Homo sapiens: one gene and its partner. The protein of the gene in region 2 purifies or fractionates together with the protein of the main gene of each other region. This does not show direct contact. Each region holds a gene or a part of one and is shown on either strand. Other genes may lie near its edges.

Region 1 (11,120 bases), on a different chromosome or scaffold from region 2:
CCAGTGTTCTCTAAGTAAAGGGCAAAAGCTACTGGATTTAAATGGGGGTTTTAAAAAGATATCTAATTCCTCTCTTTAAAAGAATTTCTACTTACCCATTTTCTAGCTCTTTTTTTCACTTATTCACCCTCCCACCCCCATAAAGGCACTGAACTGAGGAGATTCTGCTTAAAGCCCTGAGTTCTTTTTGCTCTCCTAGCTGTTAATATTCTCTACATAAATGTTACTGTTACCTTTTAAGGTAATGTCTTCTTGATTTCCTAGTGTTTCCCTCTCAGAAATATTTGCATTCCAATTATTGACTCTCTGCTAACATTGTTTTATTGTCCTCAGCTGGAAGGAAAATGTAGAATGACTCAGCATACTGGTAAATTAGAGCACTCTTTGTCTTTCCTTCACAAAGCCATACAACTTTATTGCACATAGTATTGACCAAGTTTAAGTTGTTTGTCCAATGCTCACATTGCATAGTAAGGTAAAACAGGATGTCTTTCTGCATGTATTATTGAAAAAGGTTAATTCCTGTGTTATATTTCTTTTTAAGTGACATCTCCTAAGAAAATCATCTTCCCCATAGCTCTTCTTTATCAATCATTTTTTTCTTTTAACTATTTAGGGATTTAATAATTGGCCCTTTTGTTCAGCATTGGATAAGCCCCACCTTTAGATAATTTGGGATTTAATATTTGGCCTTTTTATCAGCACTAGATAAGCTCCAGCACCCTCCTCGATTAATATTAGGCCACTAGGAAAATTTTGCTTCACTGCAAAACTTCTTAACTGATATGTGGGAAATAGGGTACAGATGTGCCTAGATGCTGATTTCCCTCAGTTCTCAGAGCAGCCAGGGTCCTCAGGGTGGGGGGGTTGGGTGATTGGCAACCGCTTCCATTTTCTCCAGTGTGCTATACAAATATTAGCATTTTCTACGTGTGCCATGACATGAAAAATGTTGTGCAGCACTGCAAGGAGCCAGATTTTTTGCCCACATTGTTTTCAAACTTAAAATATAAGAATTTCCATTTGGTTTAGATCTATGGCCCCATCAATACAAAATTCTGTCCCTTATGAGCAACATCTTATAGATCTGCCCTGACCTGGAAAGATCCCACAGTATGTTGTTTAAATTTAAAATTTTATTAGTTCTAAAATTAAAAAATAAGATATACTAAATTACATCCTAGAGAAACTGGGTTATTGATTGGTATAATCCGAGTTGTCAGGCAAGGCTTTATTTTTTAAAAAATCAGGAGTACACATTGCAAGTCAGGGGTAAAGAATTATGACCAAAACCAAAAAGGTAACTTCTCTTTTATTGCCTGAATCACAACAAAATGTATGTGGGTTAGGAGGTTGGCCAGACCTCCAGACTGAGGTGGTTGCCTGAAACCAAAGGAGCTGACAACCAGATTTCACCCAGTTTTCTATACATCAGTTCTTCCAGAATTTAGCATAAAGATTTATTCTCCAGCCGGGCACGGTGCCTCACGCCTGTAATCCCAATACTTTGGGAGGCCGAGGCGGGCAGATGACGAGGTCAGGAGATCAAGACCATCATGGCTAGCATGGTGAAACCCCATCTCTAGTAAAAATACAAAAAATTAGCTGAGTGTGGTGGCGGGCGCCTGTAGTCCCAGCTACTCAGGAGGCTGAGGCAGGAGAATGGCGTGAACCCAGGAGGTGGAGCTTGCAGTGAGCCGAGATCGCACCACTGCACTCCAGCCTGGGTGACAGAGCAGGACTCCATCTGAAACAAACAAAAAAAAAAGATTTCTTCTCCAAAAGGAAGTCTAACTCCTTCTCCAGCCTCTTTCAACTAGTAGTAATTCCTCACGCTCCAGAATAATCAGATTTTCCTGTCCTGCCATAGAGAGGAAAGGGAATCAGTCTCCTTCTTGGTTTTTGTGGGATTGTTTTAAGATGTACACTAATGATAAACCAACTTTTCTACCTCTGGGGTAAGTGAATGCAACTTTGCCCTGGTGTCTTGTGGCTAAAAATAATCCAGCTATAGTCTCCAAGACAGCAAGAATCTGGATGAATGGCTGTCGCACCAGAGAGAGCAAGCTGGTCTTGGTCTTGGATCTGGATGAATGGTCTTGGTGTTGAATCTGGATGAATGGCTGTGGCACCAGAGAGAGCAAGCTGGTCTGTTCTCATTCAGAGGAACTCTTAGCTGCATAATTTCAGATTTGAATGTCTTAGAGTTCATCTCCAGCTGATCTGTATTATTATCCGATTAACTTTTCTTATCACAGCAGGTCTATGTAAAGAAAATACAGCTATTCCTCAACTTGCGATAGGGTTATATCTCAGTAAACCCCTTGTAAATTGGAAACATTGTTAGTCAAAAATACATTTATTACACCCAACTTACCAAGCATCGCAGCTTAGCCTAGCCTTCCTTAAACATGCTCAGAACACTTATGTTAGCCTACAGTTAGGCAGAATCATCTAACACAAGCCTATTTTATTAAAAAGTTGTGAATGGCTCATGTAATTTATTGAATACTATACTGAAAGTGAAAAAAGTGCCCATTGTATGGGCACTCAAAGTACAGTTTCTACTGAATGCATGTTGCTTTCACACCACCATAAAGTCAAAAAATCGTAGTCAAGCCATCCTAAATCAGAGACCATTTATAATACTTCCTCTGTAACCATTGCAGTTTCTCAAGTGTCAGAACAGAATTTATTATTCTTGAAAATGTTTTTCATCATCTGGAAACATGGTGCTCTTTAGGGTTTACAGCAGTTTTGGGAAAAAATGAAAACATGGTGCTCTTAAACTTATTACATTTGGACATATATTTTGAGGGTTTCTTTTCAATAATGGTGATGGATTTGTGCAGATACATCTGCTGCTTGAACATGTTTTTTCTACTTATCAAATGCAGGTAATTCTGAAACTACTGAAGTAAGGGTGCAGTTAGTTAAAAAAAAGTAGACAATTTACAACAGTCATTAGACTGCTTTTGATGTTGTGTCATCTGTCTATATTGAGGACATATAGAATTTGTCACCACTTACTATAGGGATGTGGTGGTTTGCTATGTTAAACAGTCCCCTCTTTAAGAAATAGACAAGACTATTGTAGCAGGCAAGTGCTTTTTTTATTTTATGGATGCTGTTTAGTACCTTTTGGGACTGACTGCTAGGAAACTTAGAGTCAGATTTGCTGTCATACTCTAAGAATTGCATAGGATCTTATATCATTCTATCATTATTTAGTTTTTGTTATTCATTTATTTTTTGATCTATCATTAATGCGTTTTGGAATGAGGCAGGCTTTTATGGAAATACTCTCACAATTCTGATCTCATTAACACCAGATTTTTAGCTGACTGTACTACATGTCTACTGCTATGGAAAAGATTCTTAGTTTGGATATATTCCTTTTAGTACCATTAGTGGTCGTTGCAGTTAGCCACTTTTTGCAGGTATGTGTGCTAAGCCTTTAAAATCTTTGTTTTTCACAGGTCATAGAGAAGAGATACTTTTTAAGAGAAGGTAATCAGGTTGGTATCTCTTTTCTTGATAAAATAGATTCTTAAATTTTGATAGGTGATTTCCAAATTTAAGTTCAGAAGTAGTTTTAAAAAGTTGGGGAAAGCCCTTTATAGGCACAAGCAACTGATTTCCTTCTATCCTGTTAAATACAAAAGGAGAAAATCAGAACAAAGGGAAAATAAGGATCTAGGAAACAAATATAATCTAGGAATAAGATTACATTATAAAATAGAAGAAGAAAATAATTTGCTTGGGACTCCAAGAGTATACGTTCAGGGTCTGTCACAATACAAATAATTTCTATAAAAGTCTAGTAGGTATTATGAGATTTACCTTCATTCTTTCTGATTTAGATGACACTATCACCAATTTGTTGGGAAATGTTTTCCATTTGGGTAAGATTTATTTTTATTATTTAATCTGTGGTTTTCTGAGTAAAACCTCAGAAAGTTGTTTTTTTAAGAAACAGCAGGCTGACATACAGAAATGGAAAAGAAGGGAAAAATTACTATTAGTATTTGAACTTTTATTGCTTGAGACTTAATGCAATTATCTTTCTTGCCTACAGATTCCAGGCTTTCCTGATCGGAAAAGATTTGGGGCAGGAACATTAAAGAGCCTTCATTATGACTGAATTACACTCATCCTTTGGAAGAGTGAGCAAGCAGTGGCAGTTTTTCACAGCTCATCTTGCTGTGTTCAATTATTACCATCACAGCCTTTTAACAAAATCATCTTAAAATGCTACCCTTCAGCCTTACCCTTTAATGGAAAAATGAAAGGAAGTGACAATACGGGAGGTCCAAACTTTGTCCCTGTTCTCTGTGTTCCTTACCTTTCTGTCCCTGTGTATAGATTATGTAAAAGCCTTGTGTAAATATGAGATGTTGTCAAAATGATGCAGTAAATGAGCAATGACAGTGTACTGCAGAGAAAATTTACTCTTGCCTAGAACTGGAGGGTTTTTATGGGTCTGTAATTTTCCCACACTCATTGCTGAAAGCTTAATTAAGTACTTCAAAAACGTATCTCCATTGTTTTACCTTCTTGAGGGGAACGGTCTTGTTAACCAGCCCTGAGTTGTCTACCCCAAACAATCTCTGTCATTTTCAAAGATGCAAAATGGTGTTATTTAATTGTCTCCACCATTGTCACACACAGGAATGCCTAATAATAGCAACCCTTGTCTCCCTCTTCTCTCCTTTGCAAATGGCTCAGTGACTGGAAGAGGCGGACTAATAGCCAGAGTTAAATATAAATACAAATTAATAATACATAGAGAACAGCAATACCAGAAAAAAAGAATTCTGGTAAAATGATGTGAAAAATTGACAGCTCCCTCACTCTTAAGGTTGCTGCTATATACAGTCTAGGTTTTCTGTTTGGAAATAGGTAGGGTAAAATCTAAGACCTGCACAAGGGCAGTGAGAGACATTTACAGCCTCCTCTCTATTTGTTTTTTTAAGGAAAAGTCAACTCCTGAAATGTCCCTTAGCTATAATCAGAAAACTAAGAATATTATTCTGTGTCAACAATGTATTTATGGAGAGAAGTAAAAATAAGTTCCACAGCAACACATTTACATGAATTATGAACTAGGATTCTTGGATTTCATAATCACTCCAAAGCTTTTTGGGGATGGTGTGTGTGTGTGTGTGTGTCCGTAATTGTTCATCATTACTTTTTTTAACCTATCTTTTTGCTTGCTTAATCTTCTCTGCCCCAGTTCTTCCTGAGTATATGAATTTGATTTCTAAAAACAATTTATTCAACACTCTATCACCCGTATTCTCTCTCTGGCTCTGCTGCAGGTCTCTGCACTCCTGATTTTGCTCCATACTTTTAAATAACAATAATAAATATACAGTTTTCATTTCTCATTTAAAAAATAGGTGGAAAACACCAAATTCACTTTCTGTTCCATTTTAATTAGGTTTCAGAAGTATCTTGGAAATCAAGGTATGCTGCAAGAGGATATTAAAATAAGAATGTTAGAGAGTCCTTTTAGAAAGGCAGTCTTGGGAATTTGGAAAAGGATTTTTAAAGCAGCTTTCATCAGCTAGACTGTTCTCCAGCCTTTCTTTACTTCCTCTTTGAAAGGACATAGCCCTGGTTTCTTTTTGACACAAAGGAAAGCTATGCAAATCATGATCTGTATGTAGAATTGGTCACAAGTATGTTGTTGCATAGGCTGTACAGTTGGGAAGTAGAAACCAAATGCTACCCAGAGACCTAACCCAATTAAGCTCTTTGTATTTCTCCTTCAAGAAATAAATCTTCCTTCCTTCTTTCTTCCTCTTTCTTTTAATTTTAAAAAAATTCATCCTGATTTTTTTATTTTCTATCTTATTTAAAAAATAAAAATAGGCCAGGCGCGGTGGCTCACACCTTTAATCCCAACACTTTGGGAGGCGGGTCGATCACTTGATATCAGGAGTTTGAGACCAGCCTGGCCAACATAGGGAAACCCTGTCTCTACTAAAAATACAAAAATTAGCCAGGCCTGGTGGCACGCGCCTGTAATCCCAGCTACTTGGGAGGCTGAGGCAGGAGAATCACTTGAACCTGGGAGGTGGAGGTTGCAGTGAGTCAAGATCGTGTCACTGCACTCCAGCCTAGGTGACAGAGTGAGACTCCAACTAAAAGAAAATAAATAAATAAATATATAAATATATAAATAAATAATAAAAGTAAACTATTGCTGATGACTCCAGGGTCAATCTGGAAAAATTAACAGTATTCCTCAACTCCATTACTTTCTGCAGCCAAGCTTGATTCCTTGAATTATAGTTTTCTAAGAAAAAATAGTTTTTAATAATCTAAGGTAAATTTGTTGCAATTATTAGCAGCAGCATAATAAGGCTTTTTGCGCAAATGAATGTTATTAGCTAGAGTTATTCAAAAAAGAATGAAGCACAATTTTTGCTAGGACTTCTTGAGAACTATTCATAAAAATGCTTTTAGATAATAAACAAGTATAAATGTCAAAATATTTTTTTAAAAGTATAATTGGCCAGGTGCTGGCTCACGCCTATAATCCCAGCACTCTAGGAGACTGAGGCAGGAGGATCACTTGAGCTCGGGAGTTTGAGGCTGCAGTGATTCATGATTGCACCACTGCCTTCCAGCAGCCTGATGACAGAGTGGGACTCCATCTCTTTACATATGTATATCTTACTCTCTTGATGGGACAAGTTGGTAGAAATAAAGATTTTTTTTTTCTGTTGTGATTTCGGTGTCTGACCAATTTTCTGACTCATTGTGAAGGTGACCAGATATGAAGGCATATATATGACTACTCCTCTGTCCCTTAGGTGTATAAGACTTAGCTGGAATCCAACTAAAGATTTGGGCTGGTCTCTCCATCTTAACGTTGATGGGATTCAGGACACATAACCCCAAAATATTGCACCCTGTTATTTGAGAAAACTGCAGAAGCAAGGTTTCTCATACCTTCCCCTTACCCCTTCTCCCCTGAAGCAGGCCATAAACCCTAAGTGACTGTTCCCTGAAGTAGATCATAAAACCTTCATTCCATAGGTACCCTTTATCCTCACAGATACAGAGACACCAAGAAGAATCTGGACAAATAGGACTTGCTAAGTTCTCCACAGTTTATTACCATTAGATTATGTCCTTTTGTCCTCTGATTATACTTCTGCATAAGACTGTACATAAAAATACACAAGTTTTCCTATTTCTTTTTTGTCTTCATTTCTGAAGATTCCTGTCATGTAAAACTTACAGTAAATAAATGTGTGTGCTTTTCTCAATAATCTGTCTTTCGTTATAGGTGCCTCATTTGTGAACCTAGTGATGGGTGAAGAAAGAAAGCTCTTCTCCGCTACAGTGCTCTAAGAAAAGCTATTCCCAAAAGAGTTGATCCATATTAGCTTTAGCTCGGGTTCTTAGAATTCCTCAAACTTGAGGCATTCATGATATAATCCAGGTGCCCTGACACTTGTTTTTCTGTTCATTCTGACATGGACTTCATGGAAATGATGTGCAGGGACATCAGACTGAGGTGAAGAGCTCCTAATTGCTCCTTGTAATCAGAGTTTCTGAGTCCTCATTTCAATAGTTTGCAGTAGCACCCACCATAGGTAGGACCTTGTATGGGTTACTAGATGGTGGCTTAATTGAATTTTTTAAAGCACAGGTGACATCATATTTTAAGAAGTTTAAAGGTCTAACAGGGTGTCTGCATTGGTTTAATATATGTTAAAATTCAAAGGAGGAGTCTGTTTTGGGGAAAGGAGGAGAAGGAAATTAGAAATTCATTTCTCCGCAGTCCCAAGACTGAGCTAAATCACTGTGGTGGGAGAGGAAGGGTCGCAGGAAGTCTAACCCTGTGTCTCAAATATTTCACAACATGTTTGCCTACACAAAATATCTGATGTTAGGGTCAGCTGGGGCTGCTCCATAGCATAGTAAAGGAATTGGACATCCAGTTACAATTAATCTGCACCTCCATTAAGGACTCACATGGAGGGCTTTCAAACTCTGAAGTGTGTAAGAATCCCCTGAAGTGCTTGCTGAAAATGCAGATTCCACGATTTCCTCTCTCTTCCCTTACTCTCCCCTTTCTATATGTATAGGATAAGGCCAGGATTTTGTATTTTTAACAGACAAGCCAGATTTTTCTCATGCAGATAAGTCAGGATCTAGCCTTTAAGAAAGACAAATAAACTCATCAAAAAGTAGGGAATATAGATTGTGAACTCTGTACTTTATGAGTGCCATTATAGCAGAATTCATCAAAGCGCATCTTTGACTGCCTCAACCTGATCTCACCTTAATGAACTGATCCACTCCTCCCCACTCAAAGCTACATATGCCAAATTAAACATGAGATGATTGTCATGTCTTCTGTTGGCAAAACAAGTATTTGTCTTTCATGTATTGCTATCATTTTTATTACTGCCACTGTTTTTCCCCTGGGTTCTGTTTTTAATCCAAATATATTTATTTCTAACCAGTGCCTTGCCATCTTACACACAGCCCCCTCTCTAGTACTGTGTTTTCTCAGCTGGCTAATCACTAAGCTTTACCGAGGTCATCAATAACTAATGACAAAGAATGGAACCCCTAAACTCCAACCAAGGTGTAAAACCTCGCTCAGTACCATCAAGTATATCAGGTAATCTCTCCGTTCCATCTTTTTCTCGGAGACATCTGTCCTGGAGTCCTCTGATGCCTAACTCCGTTTTGGAGTGATTACTCTGTAGACCTGTCACACCCTGCTTCACATTACCTTGTAGCAATTCCTGGATGTAATGTTTTCCACTTTCTATCCAACTCTTACTCTATGGGACTTGGCTCAGACATAGTCTTCTCTGGGAAGCCCTCCCTGGCTCTGCTCGTCTGGGCTACGTGCCCACTAGTGCTTCCCCTAGATCCCTGGGCTCTTTCCTGTCAGAGCACTTACACTATGTTGTGATGGTTTTCAAAAATTGTTAAATAAATGAATGTATAATTACATTAATTAAAATGGAAAGCCATTAGACATAGAATCAGAACTTATCTGTAGCTGTGTAAGTTATTTATTCTCCAATCCCAGCAGGACATGATGGCTTATGCCTGTAATTCCAATACTTTGGGAGGCTGAGGCCAGAGGATGGCTTATGCCTGGGAGTTAAAGGCTGCAGTGAGCTGTGATGATGCCACTGCACTCCAGCTTGGATGACACAGCAAGACTCTGTCTCTAAAAAAAAACATTAAGTCAGGTGCAGGAGTTCACGTCTGTAATCCCAGCACTTTGGGAGGCTGAAGTGGGAGGATTGCTTGAGCCTAGGAGTTCAAGTTCAGCCTGGGCAACATGACGAGACCTCATCTCTACTAAAAAATTTTTAAAGTAGCCGGGTGTGGTGGTGTGTGCCTGTAGTCCCAGCTACTCAGGAGGCTGAGATGGGAGGATCGCTTTAGCCCAGGAGGTTGAGGCTTCAGTGAGCCATTTTTGTGCCACTGCACTCCAGCCTGGATGACAGAGAACCTGTCTCAAAAAAAAAATTAAATAATAAAATAATATTTTAATATCCCCTGTGTGTATTCTCTCCTTTTAGAAGGAATCCCTAAAGTTTAGTGAAAGATGTATTCAACTTTAAATATTTTCAAGCCCCTCAAAGTAATTTTAATCCAGTCAAGGAACTGTTAACACTTTCTTACCCCTTCAGAAGTCTCTCATACCTTAGGAAAGAACTGAAACACTTCTTAAATCTGCCTTCACAACTGGTTCAATGGAAGTAACATAGAAAGTTTGTTGAAAAATAAGGCAGTAAAGATTTCCCTTTGTCTTTTATTAGCTCCCATTTGTTTATCTAATGACCAACTGCTAACTTCCAAGATCAATAGAGATTGAAGGCCCAAGGTACTCATAAACTTAGATACACAGGAGATATTTTCTTCGAATTCAGTTTCAGAGTCTGCATGTTATAGGAATAGTGAAAACTTAGCCTCAATAAAGCTAGGGCCTCCACCTACCTTCCTCCTAGGTTTGCATATGAATTCCAGAATAGTTTATATAATGCCACAATGCCATCTGTCTATGCTGACATATGCTGAGGTTTCCTATCAGCTGCCCGGTCCGTAGGCATCAGTCCACATGGTTTGCTACCAGCATGTTTCCTATCAACATGTCCCCTTTGGTCTGGCCCAGTCTGTGCTAGCACCTCATACACAGGCAATAATTCTGCTGCTACTGCAGTATGCTGGAGCCTGGGGACCCTTGGAGGTTGTTTAAGCCCATTTATCTAAAGCAGAGGGTCTCAAACTAGCAGCCTGTGGCCACTTCAAATATGCACATGTTTTTCAACCTGCATGATTATATCAGTTATTTATCACTGCTTAACAAACCACCCCAAAATTTAGTAGTGTGAAATACACCATTCTATTTGTTCCCAATTCTGTGGCTCAGCAGTTCGGGCCAGATTTAACTGGTGGTTCTTCTGCTGGTCTTGCCTGGGATCACACATGTTCTGCAGTCACCTGGCAGCCAGACTGCCTCATTCACATGTCTGGCAGTTCCTGTGGGGCTTGCAGGGCTGTTGCCTGGACCTCTGGAGGCCAGCCCAGCTTCTCTGCACTGTGGTCTCAGGCTGCAAGAATGGGCCCTGTCCTAAGGCACAGGCATGTTTCAAACTCTGTGTCATGTTTGCTACTAGCCAAAGAAAAAGACCCTACCTCTTGATGGGAGGAACAGCAAAGTCACATTCAAAGGGGCACACATACAAGGATAGGAGGAATTGGAGCATTTTTTGCCATCTACCACAGGGTGGTTTCTCTGTCTCTCTCACTCTAATTACCAATGGTTAAAAATTGGAGCTTCATCTTATCTTGAAAAATCAGCTAGCCTACTTTATTCACTTACACTTCCTCCCTCATCTGTTGGCATTTGAGTTGTGATAATGCCTAATTTACAAGATTGTTTTTGTGAAGTTAGATATGGAAAAATCTGACAAAAGCAGAAACTCAATATATGTTTTCTCCTTTCTGAACACCACTAGTCATGAAGCTGCTACCTGCCAATGACCAAGGAGAGCGGCCAAGATGAAGAACAAGGGAGTCATAGAGGAGGTGGCTGGAGAATAATCCCTTGGTCTGTTTTAGAAGTA
Region 2 (11,885 bases):
GAGAATGGCGTGAACCTGGGAGGCGGAGCTTGCAGTGAGCCGAGATCACGCCACTGTACTCCAGCCTGGGCAACAGAGTGAGACTCCATCTCAAAAAAAAAAAAAAAAAATTAGCCGGGCGTGGTGGCTGGGCGCCTATAATCCAAGCTACTTGGGAGACTGAGGCAGGAGAATCTCTTGAACTTGAGTGGCGGAGGTTGCAGTGAGCCGAGATTGTGCCACTGGACTCCAGCCTGGGCGACAAATTGAGACTCTGTCTCAGAAAAAAAAAAAAAAGTTATTGGAACAACTGGTGAAATTTCAGTGAGGGCTGAGTATAGTGTGGTATCAGTGGCATATTTCCTTATTTTGATAAATATATTGTGGTTATGTCAGAGAATATCCTGTCATAACCGCAATATAAGAGATACACAGTAACAAATTTATGGTAAAGGAGCATGATGTTTCCAAAGTACTCTCAAATGATTCCAGGAAAAACATAAGTAGACATAGATATATACGCCTGTATTATTTTTCTAGGGTTTACCAGCCCCCACAATTGCATGAGCCAATTTCTTTTTTTCTGTGTGTGTGTGACAAAGTTTCGCCCTTGTCACTCAAGGCTGGAGTGCAATGGCACGATCTCGGCTGACTGCAACCTCCACCTCCCGAGTTCAAGTGATTCTTCTCCCTCAGCCTCCCAAGTAGCTGGGATTACAGGTGCCCACCACCACACCTGGCTAATTTTTTGTATTCTTAGTAGAGATGGGGTTTCACCATGTTGGCCAGGCTGGTCTTGAACTCCTGACTTTCAGGTGATCCACCCGCCTTAGCCTCCCAAAGTGCTGGGATTACAGGCGTCAGCCACCGTGCCCGGCCTCTGTCTTTTTTTTTTTTTTTTTTTCGAGACAGGGTCTTGCTCTTTTGTCCAGGTTGCAGTGCAGTGGCACAATCATAGGTCACTGCAGCCTCGACCTCCTGGGCTCAGGTGATCCTCCTGCCTCTGCCTCCTAAGTAGCTAGGACTATAGGTGTGCTCCACCACACCTGGATAATTTTTTGTGTTTTGTAGAGATGGGGGTTTCACTATGTTACTTAGGCTGGTCTGGAACTCCTGGACTCCAGTGATCTTCCCACCATGGCCTCCCAAAATGCTAGGATTACAGGCATGAGCCATTGCTTCTGGCCCCAATTGCTTTCTTTTTCTTTCTTTCTTTTTTTTTTTTTTTGAGGCAGAGTCTCACTTTGTCGCCCAGGCTGGAGTGCAGTGGTATGATCTCGGTTCACTGCAACCTCTTCCTCCTGAGTTCAAGTGATTCTCCTGCCTCAGCCTCCCAAGTAGCTGGGACTACAGGTGCCTGCCACCATTCCCAGCTACTTTTTTGTATTTTTATTAAAGACGGGGTTTCACAATGTTGGTCAGCCTGGTCTCGAACTCTTTACCTCAAGTGATCTTCCCTCCTCGGCTTCCCAAAGTGCTGGGATTACAGGCGGGAGCCAACGCACCCGGCCGCTTTTACTATTCTTGCAACTTTTTTCATTTGACATTCCATCGAAATAAAAAGTTAAAAAAATTCTTTTTCTTCTGAGGGGGTGTTTTATCAAGGACACCTTTATCAAGGGTCCCGGGCCTAAAAATGTTAAGAACCCATGATTTACGGCTGAGGAGGCAACTTCCATCCAAAATCCTAAAAGTCAAGTTCCTGTGACCTGGCTTCCTGAACCTCCCCGCTCCTGCGCCCCCTGGAGGTCAGGGCTAGAACAACACGGCATTCCTATAATGCTCCAAATCGCCACAAATCGACCTTGGAAATCCTGGGTGAGTAACGCAGACTGCGCACATGGCTTCAATTAGCGGAACTAAAACTTGCTGAACATCGTGTACCCGCGTGTCCATGGCCAAACACAAACTCCACCTTTGTAAAAGTCTAGGTGAATTCCCAGCTGAATTCAGAAGCGTGACAGGAATGGGACTTTTCATTGGTGTCTTTTTCTTTTTTCTATTTTTAGAGTGGGGAGGAGTGTATTTCTGGATTGTTTAAATATTTACAATGAGCATGCATTTCCTTTGCAATTAAAAGAAAACCAGATTTTTTTTTTTTTTTTTTTGAGGCAGAATGTTGCTCTGTCCCCAGGCTGGAGTGCAGTGGCGCGATCTCGGCTCACTGCAACCTCTGCCTCCCGTGTTCAAGCAATTCTCCTGCCTCAGCCTCCTGAGTAGCTGGGACTACAAGTGCCCGCCACCACGCCCAGCTAATTTTTGTATTTTTAGTAGAGACGGGGTTTCACCATGTTAGCCAGGATAGTCTCAATCTCTTGAACTGGTGATCTGCCTGCCTCGGCTTCCCAAAGTGCTGGGATTACAGGCATGAGGACCGCACCCGGCCGAAAACCAGATTTTTAAAAATTGAAGTTTGCTGTAGAAAAATACTGTGGGAGAAAGTTGTGGGTGGTGTTTTGTAGAGTCGCAGAAGGACATGGGAAAAAAAAATTGAGTGTGTTTCTGTAATCATCATAACAATCACACTCATTGTGCCGTAGGCTCCAAGGGAGGGCTCTGAGCTGTGGTTACCAGATAAAATACAAGATTCTCAGGTAAAATGTGAAAAAAAAAATATTTTTGTGATCTTAACTCACTGCAGTCTTGATCTCCTGGGCTGAAGTGATCCTCCTGCCTCAGCCTCCCAGGTAGCTGGGACCACAGGCACGTGCCACCATGCCCAGCTAATTTTTAATTTATTTTGTTGAGATGGGATCTCACTATGTTGCCCAGGCTGCTCTCAAACTCCTGGCCTCAAGCGATCTTTCCTCGGTGTCCCCATGCCCTGGGATTACAGGTATGAAGCACCAGGCCCAACCCTGAAATTTAAAGTTAACTGGGCAGTCTGTAATGTGTTTTTGTTTGTGTAGGTGTGTGTGCTAAATCAGGCAACCCCCTATTCTGAGCAGAGGAGTGCTTTGATCTGACTTAGATTTTAATAGGCTCCCTCTGGTTGCTGGTGGAGATGAGACTACGGAGGGGGGGCAGTGAAGATCCCAGAGAGGAGGCTGCTGTAATGGTCCAAGCAGAAGGTGATAGTGATTTGGATCAGGGTAACAGAGCCGAGGTGGTGAGAGGTTGACAGGTCATGCATCTATTTCGAAGGAAAGGCCATGTCCAGGCTCCTTAGCTCGGCATTCAAGGCTTCTCTCCACCACTGGACACACTTACTCTCTAGCTTCTCAGACCCTGTTGCAGATAGAATCATGATCCCCAATGATGTCCACATCTTAATCCCCTGAACCTGTGAACAGGTGACCTTCCATGGCAAAAGGGACTTTGCAGATAGGATGAAGTTAAAGATCTTTAGATGGGGGAGCGATTATCCTGGATTGGGTCTGGGTGGGCTCAGTGGAATCACAAGAGTCCTTATATGAGGAAGATAGAAATTTGAGACATACGGTAGAGGAGGAGGTGATGAGACCACAGAGGCAGGGACGGGCGTGGTGCAACCACAAGCCAAGGAATTTCAGGAGCCACCTGAAGGTGGGAGAGGCAAGGAACAGATTCTCCCCTGGAACCTCTGGAGGGAGTGGTGACATCTTGATTTTGGACTTCTGGCCTGCAGAACCATGCCAAAATAATTGTCTGGCTTTTTTTTTCTTTTTTTTTCCTTGAGGTGGAGTCTTGCTTTGTCGCCCAGGCTGGAGTGCAGTGGTGCCATCTTGGCTCACTGCAACCTCCACCTCCCGGGTTCAAGTAATTCTTGTGCCTCAGCCTCCCGAGTAGCTGGGACTACAGGCATGCACCACCACACCCAGGTAATTTATGTATTTTTAGTAGAGATGGGGTTTTGCCATGTTGGCCAGGCTGGTCTTGAACTCTTGACCTCAATGATCTGCCCGCCTCAGCCTCCCAAAGTGCTGGGATTGCAGGCATGAGCCACTGCGCCCGGTCCTGGTGTTAAGCCCGCAGTTTGTGCTAATTGGTTACAGCAGCCTCGGGAAGGTAATCTAGGCTCCTTCCTTGCCCCAGGCTCTAGGAAGTATCTTAGCCCCCAGCCCTGGGCTGCAGACCTGTACCAGTCCATGGCCTGCTAGGAACCATGCAGCATCGCAGGAGGTGAGTGGCAGGTGAGTAAGTGAAGCTTCATCTGTATTTATAGCCACGCCCCTTCGCTCATATTACCGCCTGATCTGTCAGATCAGGGGCGGAATTACATTCTCATAAGAGCGTGAACCCAGGCCGGGCGCAGTGGCTCAAGCCTGTAATCCCAGCATTTTGGGAGGCTGAGGCGGGTGGATCACGAGGTCAGGAGTTCGAGATCAGCCTGGCCAAGATGGTGAAACCACGTCTCTACTAAAAATACAAAAATTAGCCGGGTGCAGTGGTAGGCACCTGTAGTCCCAGCTACTCGGGAGGCTGAGGCAGGAGAATCGCTTGAACCTGGGAGGCGGAGGTTGCAGTGTGCCGAGATCGTGCCACTGCACTCTAGCCTGGGTGAGAGAGTGAGACTCCATCTCAAAAAAAAAAAAAAAAAAAAAAAGAGCATGAACCCTGTTGTGAACAGCGCATGTGAGGGATCTGGGTTGCAAGCTCCTTATGAGAATCTAATGCCTGATGATCTGTCACTGTATCCCATCACCCCCAGATAGGACCATCTCGTTACAGGAAAACAAGCTCAGGGATTCCACTGATTCTACATTATGTTGAATTGTATAATTATTTCATTATATATTACAATGTAACAATAATAGATGGAGATGGTTGTGGCTTGTGTAGTTGGGGGACAGGGTAGCTCCATTTTCTATTGCCAACTTTATAACCCTAGAAGGATGATTTTTTTCTTTTCTTTTCTTTTTCTTTTCTTTTTTTTTTTTTTGAGATTGAGTCTTGGTGTTGTCAGCCTGGGCTGGAGTGCAATGGTGCAATCTCTGCTCACTGCAACCTCCGCCTCCTGGGTTCCAGCAATTCTCCTGCCTCAGCCTTCTGAGTAGCTGAGATTACAGGCACCCACCACCACGCCTGGCTAATTTTTGTATTTTTAGTAGAGATGGGGTTTCACCATATTGGCCAGGCTGGTGACGATGGTTTTTTTTTTTTGAGACAGAGTCTTGCTTTGTTGCCCAGGCTGGAGTGCAGTGGCGCAATCTTGGCTCACTGCAACCTCTGCCTCCCAGGTTTAAGCAATTCTCCTGCCTCAGCTTCCCAAGTAGCTGGGATTACAGGCACCTGCCACCACACCTGGGTAATTTTTGTATTTTTAGTAGAGACAGGGTTTCACCATGTTGGCCAGACTCGTCTTGAACTCCTGACCTCAAGTGATTCATTTGCCTCAGCCTCCCAAAGTGCTGGGATTATAGGTGTGAGCCATTGCACCTGGCCCTAGAAGGAAGATTTAACAGTAAAATATACTTAAATGCTGGGCTACCTCCGCAGACTAGCTCAGCCTCTTTGGGTCTCAAATCAGCCTGGCCGGGAGGCTGAGTGGAGGTTACAGTCTCTGCTTTCTTGAATCCCAAGGGAGGGGTTTAAGCCAACTGCATTCCTGAGCTTTTGCCCAGAAGGCTGGCGTCTTAGGAGGAAAGAGATAGATGGCTCCAGGCCGGGCGCAGTGGCTCACACTTGTAATTCTAGCACTTTGGGAGGTTGAGGTGGGTGATTGCCTGAGCTCAGGAGTTTGAGTCCAGCCTGGCCAACATGGCGAAACCCCGTCTTTACTAAAAATACAAAAAATTAGCCGGGGGTGGTGACACACACGTGTAATCCCAGCTACTCGGGAGGCTGAGGCAGGAGAAGTGCTTGAACCCAGGAGGCAGAGGTTACAGAGAGCCGAGATTGCACCACTCCACTGCAGCCTGGGCGACACAGCAAGACTCTATCAAAAAAAAAAAAAAAAAAATGAGAGAGAAGAGATGGCCCCAAATAGGGAAACCAAGGCCAGGAGAGGGGCCGAGCCTGCACAGGAGCTTCCTCGGTTTTCCGAGCGCCGGCCCCCCTTCTCTGCCTGGGAGGAGGTGGTTAGAGTCCCCTGGGTGTGTGCCCCGCAGAGGGAGCTCTGGCCTCAGTGCCCAGTGTGCAGACCAATGAGAGCCCCAGAGAGAAAGACGGTCATTTCCTCCCTGCATCTTCCCTTGGGGCTTTAAAAACCACAGCCCTTGGGCAGGAGGGACCTTCGATCCTCGGGGAGCCCAGGAGACCAGAACATGGTGAGTCTCGAAGGGGAATGGGAGCAGGAAACTTTGTCCTGGGTCCCTCCCATCTTTGCTCCAGTGGGTCCTTCTCTCTCCCCAACTCTCGCCGTCAACTCTGTCTGTCTCTCCCTTTCCTTCTCTCTCCCTGTCTTCCACCTCCCACCTTCCCTCTCTCCTGCATCCCAGGCTCTCACACTCCAGGGCTGGGATGTGGCCATGGGAATAAGATTGTCAAGATTGTGGGAGCAACAGCAACCTCGTGGGGCTGGGGCCCGAGAAGATTCCCCAGGGGAGGGGACCCTTGAGTTGGGTCTAGTAAGGTGACTAAGAATTCCACAAGCAGCCGAGCGCAGTGGGTCACACCTGTGATCCCAGCACATTGGGGATTGTGCCAAGGCGGGAGGATTGCTTGAGGCCAGGAGTTCAAGACCAGCCTGGCCAACATAGTGAGACCCTGTCTGTATTTTTTTTTTTATTTAAAGAATTCCACAAGTGAAGAAATCTAGAACAGGCCTTCCAGGCAGTGGGAATGGCAGAGAAAATGTTGGGAGGCTGGAAAGAACCAGTTTGGAGGAATGGTCAAGTTACTCAGATGCTCTTGCAGATAGATGTTCTTTTCTTTTTCGACTTGGGGTCTTGCACTGTTGCCCAGGCTGGAGTGCAGTGGCACCATCATAGCTCACTGCAGTCTTGAACTCTTGGGCTCAAGTGATCCTCCCTCTTTAGCCTCCTGAGTATCTGGGACCACAGGCATGCACCACTATGTCCGGCTAATTTTTAAAATTTTTATTCTTGTAGAGATGGGTTCTTGCTATGTTGTCAGGGCTGGTCTCAAATTCCTGGCCTCAAGCCATCCTCCCACCTTGGTCTCCCAAAGCTCTGGGATTACTGGCATGAGGCCATTATGCCTGGTCGTTTGAGATGTTCTGCATGACAGAGATGGGGAAACTGAGGCCCAGGCAGGAGCAGAGATGGATGGGGACCCTCCATGGTTGGTGGCAGAAGCAGGTTATGCCATGGATTCTGTGAGTGTCAGAAGGAATGCACCCCAGGCTAAATGAGGGTCCCTGTCATCCCTGCGTCTGGAGGCCTGGGCACTGAGCCAGCAGAGCTGCGATTCAGCACCTGCTGTAACACAGGCATTGCCTTGCTTCATCTGTGTCAAAGAGGAAACGGAAGATGGTTTGGATGGACCAGGGAGGGGTCTGATGTTGCTTCATTCCTGCATTCCACCCTTGAGATCCGACTTGGGCAAACGGGACTCTCTGATTCTTCTTCTTCTTTTTTTTTTTCTTTCCAAAACATTTTCCAAAGTACCAAATGATACTTGGTAAAAACTCATTCTCGGCCAGGCGCGGTGGCTCATGCGTGTAATCCCAGCACTTTGGGAGACTGAGGCGGGCGGATCACAAGGTCAGGAGATTGAGACCATCCTGGCCAACATGGTGAAACTCCGTCTCTACCAAAACTACAAAAATTAGCTGGGCATATAAGCGGGCGCCTGTAGTCCCAGCACTTGAGAGGCTGAGGCACGACAATCGCTTGAACCCATGAGGCAGAGGTTGCAGTGAGCCGAGATTGCTCTACTGCACTCCAGCCTGGCAACAGGGCCATCTCAAAAAACAAACATAGAAAAAAAAAAACTCATTCTCCCTGCCTACCCCAGAGCCTCTGACTCCTTTTCTTTCCTTTTATTTTGAGACAGAGTTTCACTCTTGTCGCCCAGGCTGGAGTGCAATGGCACGATCTTGGCTCACCACAACCTCTGCCTCGCGGCTTCAAGCAATTCTCCTGCCTCAGCCTCCCGACTAGGTGGGATTACAGGCATGCGCCACCACGCCTGGCTAATTTTTTGTCTTTTTAGTAGAGACGGAGTTTCACCATGTTGGCCAGGCTGGTCTTGAACTCCTGACCTCACGTGATCCACCCACATTGGTCTCCCAAAGTGCTGGGATTACAGGTATGAGCCACCCTACCTGGCCCTCTGACTCCTTTTCATTGCCTCCTACCCTACCTGGGGCAACCATGGGATGCCAGTTTGTGGTGGATCCTTCCAGAAACAGTTTACAGATGCCTGAGAGCACAGATGCTTAGGGAACAAAGTAAGGACTAGTGTGATGCGGGGAACCCCAAAACCGAGCTCAGCTTCTGTCTCTACTATGAAATAGTTGCGGAGATCTGTCCTCTCCGTGCTTCTGTCTCCTTATCTTTTTGTTTTTTGAGACAGTGTCTTGCTCTGTTGCCCAGGCTAGAGTGCAGTGGTGTGATCTCAGCTCACTGTAACCTCCACCTCCTGGGTTCAAGTGATTCTCCTGCCTCAGCCTCCCAGGTAGCTGGGACTACAGGTGCCTGCCACCATGCCTGGCTAATTTTTGTATTTTTAGTAGAGACGGGGTTTCACCGTGTTGGCCAGGCTGGTCTTGAACTCCTGGCCCCAAGCAATCTTCCCGCCTTGGCCTCCCAAAGTGCTGGGATTACAGGCGTGAGCCATCGCACCCAGCCTCCTTCTCCTTATCTTTAAGGTGAAGATAATACTAGAATCTACATCATAGGCTAGTTGAGAGAATTGACTGAGTGAATGCATGAAAAGTTCTTGTAGCAGTGCCTGGTATACAGTTGGCGCTCAATGTGGGTGACATTTCTATCCTTTCCCAGCCTTATAAATGGCAGTATGTTTTGTACAGTACTCTACATCTGGCTTTTTTAAATGAATAACATATAGTATTATTAACTAGCATTTATTGAGTGCTTACTGCATACCAGGCGTTGTATTAGGCATTCATTAATTTCCCCTTAACCTTGAGGAAGGTACTTCATTCCCGTGTAGTTCAAGGGAGTTGCCTCCTCCTCCTCCTCCTTTTTTTCTTTTTTCTAGACAGGGTCTACTGAGGTCTTCCACCTCAGCCTCCTGAGTAGGTGGGACTACAGGTGCATGCCACCACACCCAGCTAGATTTAAAATTTTTTGTAGAGGTGGGGTCTTGCTATGTTGCCCAGCCTGGTGCTTCTTTCTTTCTTTTATCAGCTGAGTAATATGCTAGTAGGAGGTTTCATCCCCTTCAATGGAAATTTAGTTTGCTTCTAATATTTGGTCTGTTTTGTTTTGTTTTGAGACAGAGTCTCGCTCTGTCACCCAGCCTGGAGGGCAGTGGTGCAGTCTTGGCTCACTGCACCTCTGCCTCCTGGATTCTGGTGATTCTCCTGCCTCGGCCTCCCAAGTAGCTGGTATCACAGGTGCGTGCCACCACACACGGCTAATTTTTGTATTTTATTTTAGTAGAGACGGGATTTCACCATGTTGGCCAGGCTGGTCTCGAACTCCTGACCTCGTGATCCACCCGCCTCAGCCTCCCAAAGTGCTGGGATTATAGGCGTGAGCCACCGCGCCTGGCGTCCAGCCACATTCTTTAACTCAGCATCTGCAGACCTTCCAGTCCTATCTTGGCCGCCTGCCAGCCATGCTGACCTTTCGTTTCTGCTGTGCACCACCTGCCCTTCCTCTCTCCTTTCTGCCTAGAATGCATGCCCCCCCACTCCCAATGCACTTTAGGCCTGCCTGGTAGCCACTCAAACAGAGGGCTCTGGGCTGGGCGCGGTGGCTCATGCCTGTAATCCCAGCACTTTGGGAGGCTGAGGTGGGTGGATCACGAGGTCAGGAGATCAAGACTATCCTGGCTAACACGGTGAAACCCTGTCTCTACTAAAAATAAAATTAGCCAGGCATGGTGGCGGGCACCTGTAGTCCCAGCTACTCGGGAGGCTGAGGCTAGCAAATGGTGTGAATCCAGGAGGCGGAGCTTGCAGTGAGCTGAGATCGCGCCACTGCACTCCAGCCTGGGGACAGAGCGAGATTCCGTCTCATAAAAAAAAAAAAGAGAGAGAGGGCTCTGGGGCTCAGCTCTCAGGAGTTTCTCTCCTGTCTCTGTTCTTGCTAACCGAGAAGACTTGGAGAGGTCTGTTCATTTCTCTGTAGCCTCATTTTTCTCTTCTGGAAAATGAGTGTTGCTGTTGCAACAAGTAAGTCTCCTAGGGTTGCTTTGTGGGTTCAATGAGATAATACACGAGAAAGGCTCAGGACAGCCTGGCAATGATTATGGCTGTTCTTGTAGGTACTGCGCCTTCTCCTTCACCCTGTTCTCATCCGATCGTTCACATCTTGCGGCCAGCACCCTTGTCTAAGCCACCGTCATGCCTCACGTCACCTGGACAGTTCCAATCTCCGTTTCCTCCCAGCTTCTGCTCTCTGCCCCTTTCTCCATGCAACAGACAAGGGTTGTTCCTCTAATGAGCATGTGAATTTAGGAAGAATAATAGTACCCTGCCCTTTGTGCTATTGTCACATAGATATGCACTGTGATTAGGAAATTACTAAGCCAACACCTGGGAAGCACATGGAATAGTGCCGGGCAATTAGAACCCCCAGAGTGGCCCTGGACCTGCACTGCCCAATATGTGGGCCACGTGCCACAATGCAGCTACCTACGTTTATTTTTCACTATTTTATTTTATTTTACTTTATTTATTTTATTTTTGAGATGGAGTTTTGCTCTTGTTGCCCAGGCTGGAGTATAGTGAAGCGATCTCGGCTCACTGTAGCCTCCACCTCCCGGGTTCCAGTGATTCTTCTGCCTCAGCCTCCCAGATAGCTGGGATTACAGGCGCACGCCACCACTCCTGGCTAATTTTTGTATTTTTAGTAGAGACAGGGTTTCACCATGTTGGTCAGGCTGGTCTTGAACTGCTGACCTCAGGTGATCCACCCGCCTGGGCCTCCCAAATTGCTGGAATTACAGGCGTGAACCACCGTGTCCAGCCTATTTTATTTTTTAGAGATGGAGTCTCGCTATGTTGCCCAGGCTGGAGTGCAGTGGCACGATCTCGGCTCACTACAACCTCCACCTCCTGGGTTCAAGTGTTTTTCCTGCCTCAGTCTACTGAGTAGCTGGAATTACAGGTGCCTGCCATCACACCCAGCTAATTTTTGTATTTTTAGTAGAGACGGGGTTTCACTATGTTGGCCAGTCTGGGCTTGAACTCCTGACTTCAAGTGATCCACCTTCCTTGGCCTCCCAAAGTGCTGGGATTACAGGCGTGAGCCACCACGCCTGGCCTCACCCTAGATCTTGGAGGTCTTTCCACATCATTATATAAACATTCTTTTTGTCTGTTTTTTTCCTTTTTGTAGGGATAGGGTCTTGCTAGGTTACCCAGGCTGATCTTGAACTCCTGGGCTCAAGCAATCCCCCTGCTTCAGCCTCCCAAAGTGCTAGGATTACAGGCATGAGCCACTGCACCTGGCCAACTTTTCCATTCTTTTTGATAGCTGTGTAGTATTCTGTTGCCTGGATGTACCATCATTAATTTAGCCAGTCCCCTCTTGCTGGACATGTCAGTTATTTCCAGTCTTTGGAGAGGTGCTGCAGTGGCAAACTTTGCAAGCCGTTTGCGTCTGAAGATCCCGGAAACCACAGGACGTTGGAATCAGCGTATTTTTTCTGCCTTTCTGAAGTCAACCAGAGGAAAGGACTGAGTGAGCTCATGGCAGGAACGGAGCTTTGTCAGCTGATGAGGGAGTGACAAGGCGATGTCAGAGCAGAGGGTGGGGAGGCTCCCCTTACGAGGGTCTGAGTCATTCTGCAGTCAAGGATTGCTGGGAGCTTGCGAAACCAGCAGAGGCAAAATTTACCTTCATGCGTCACAGCCAAAGGGAACATTCAAAATATTTAACAATGTG

The links.
Region 1: the proteins of C5AR1 (region 2) and RABL3 purify together in Homo sapiens (co-immunoprecipitation; 2 studies listed by BioGRID and IntAct, with this or other methods). This does not show direct contact.

Annotation. Positions count from the first base shown.
Region 1 is NC_000003.12:120,682,847-120,693,966, reverse strand, and holds the end of RABL3 (rab-like protein 3), read left to right. Parts: intron 1-3,479; coding exon 3,480-3,518; intron 3,519-3,863; coding exon of another isoform or gene 3,864-3,905; intron 3,906-4,078; coding exon 4,079-4,144; 3' UTR 4,145-9,029; downstream 9,030-11,120. UniProt on the Homo sapiens protein: Required for KRAS signaling regulation and modulation of cell proliferation. Regulator of KRAS prenylation, and probably prenylation of other small GTPases. Required for lymphocyte development and function. Not required for myeloid cell development.
Region 2 is NC_000019.10:47,303,732-47,315,616, forward strand, and holds the start of C5AR1 (C5a anaphylatoxin chemotactic receptor 1), read left to right. Parts: upstream 1-6,129; 5' UTR 6,130-6,164; coding exon 6,165-6,167; intron 6,168-11,885.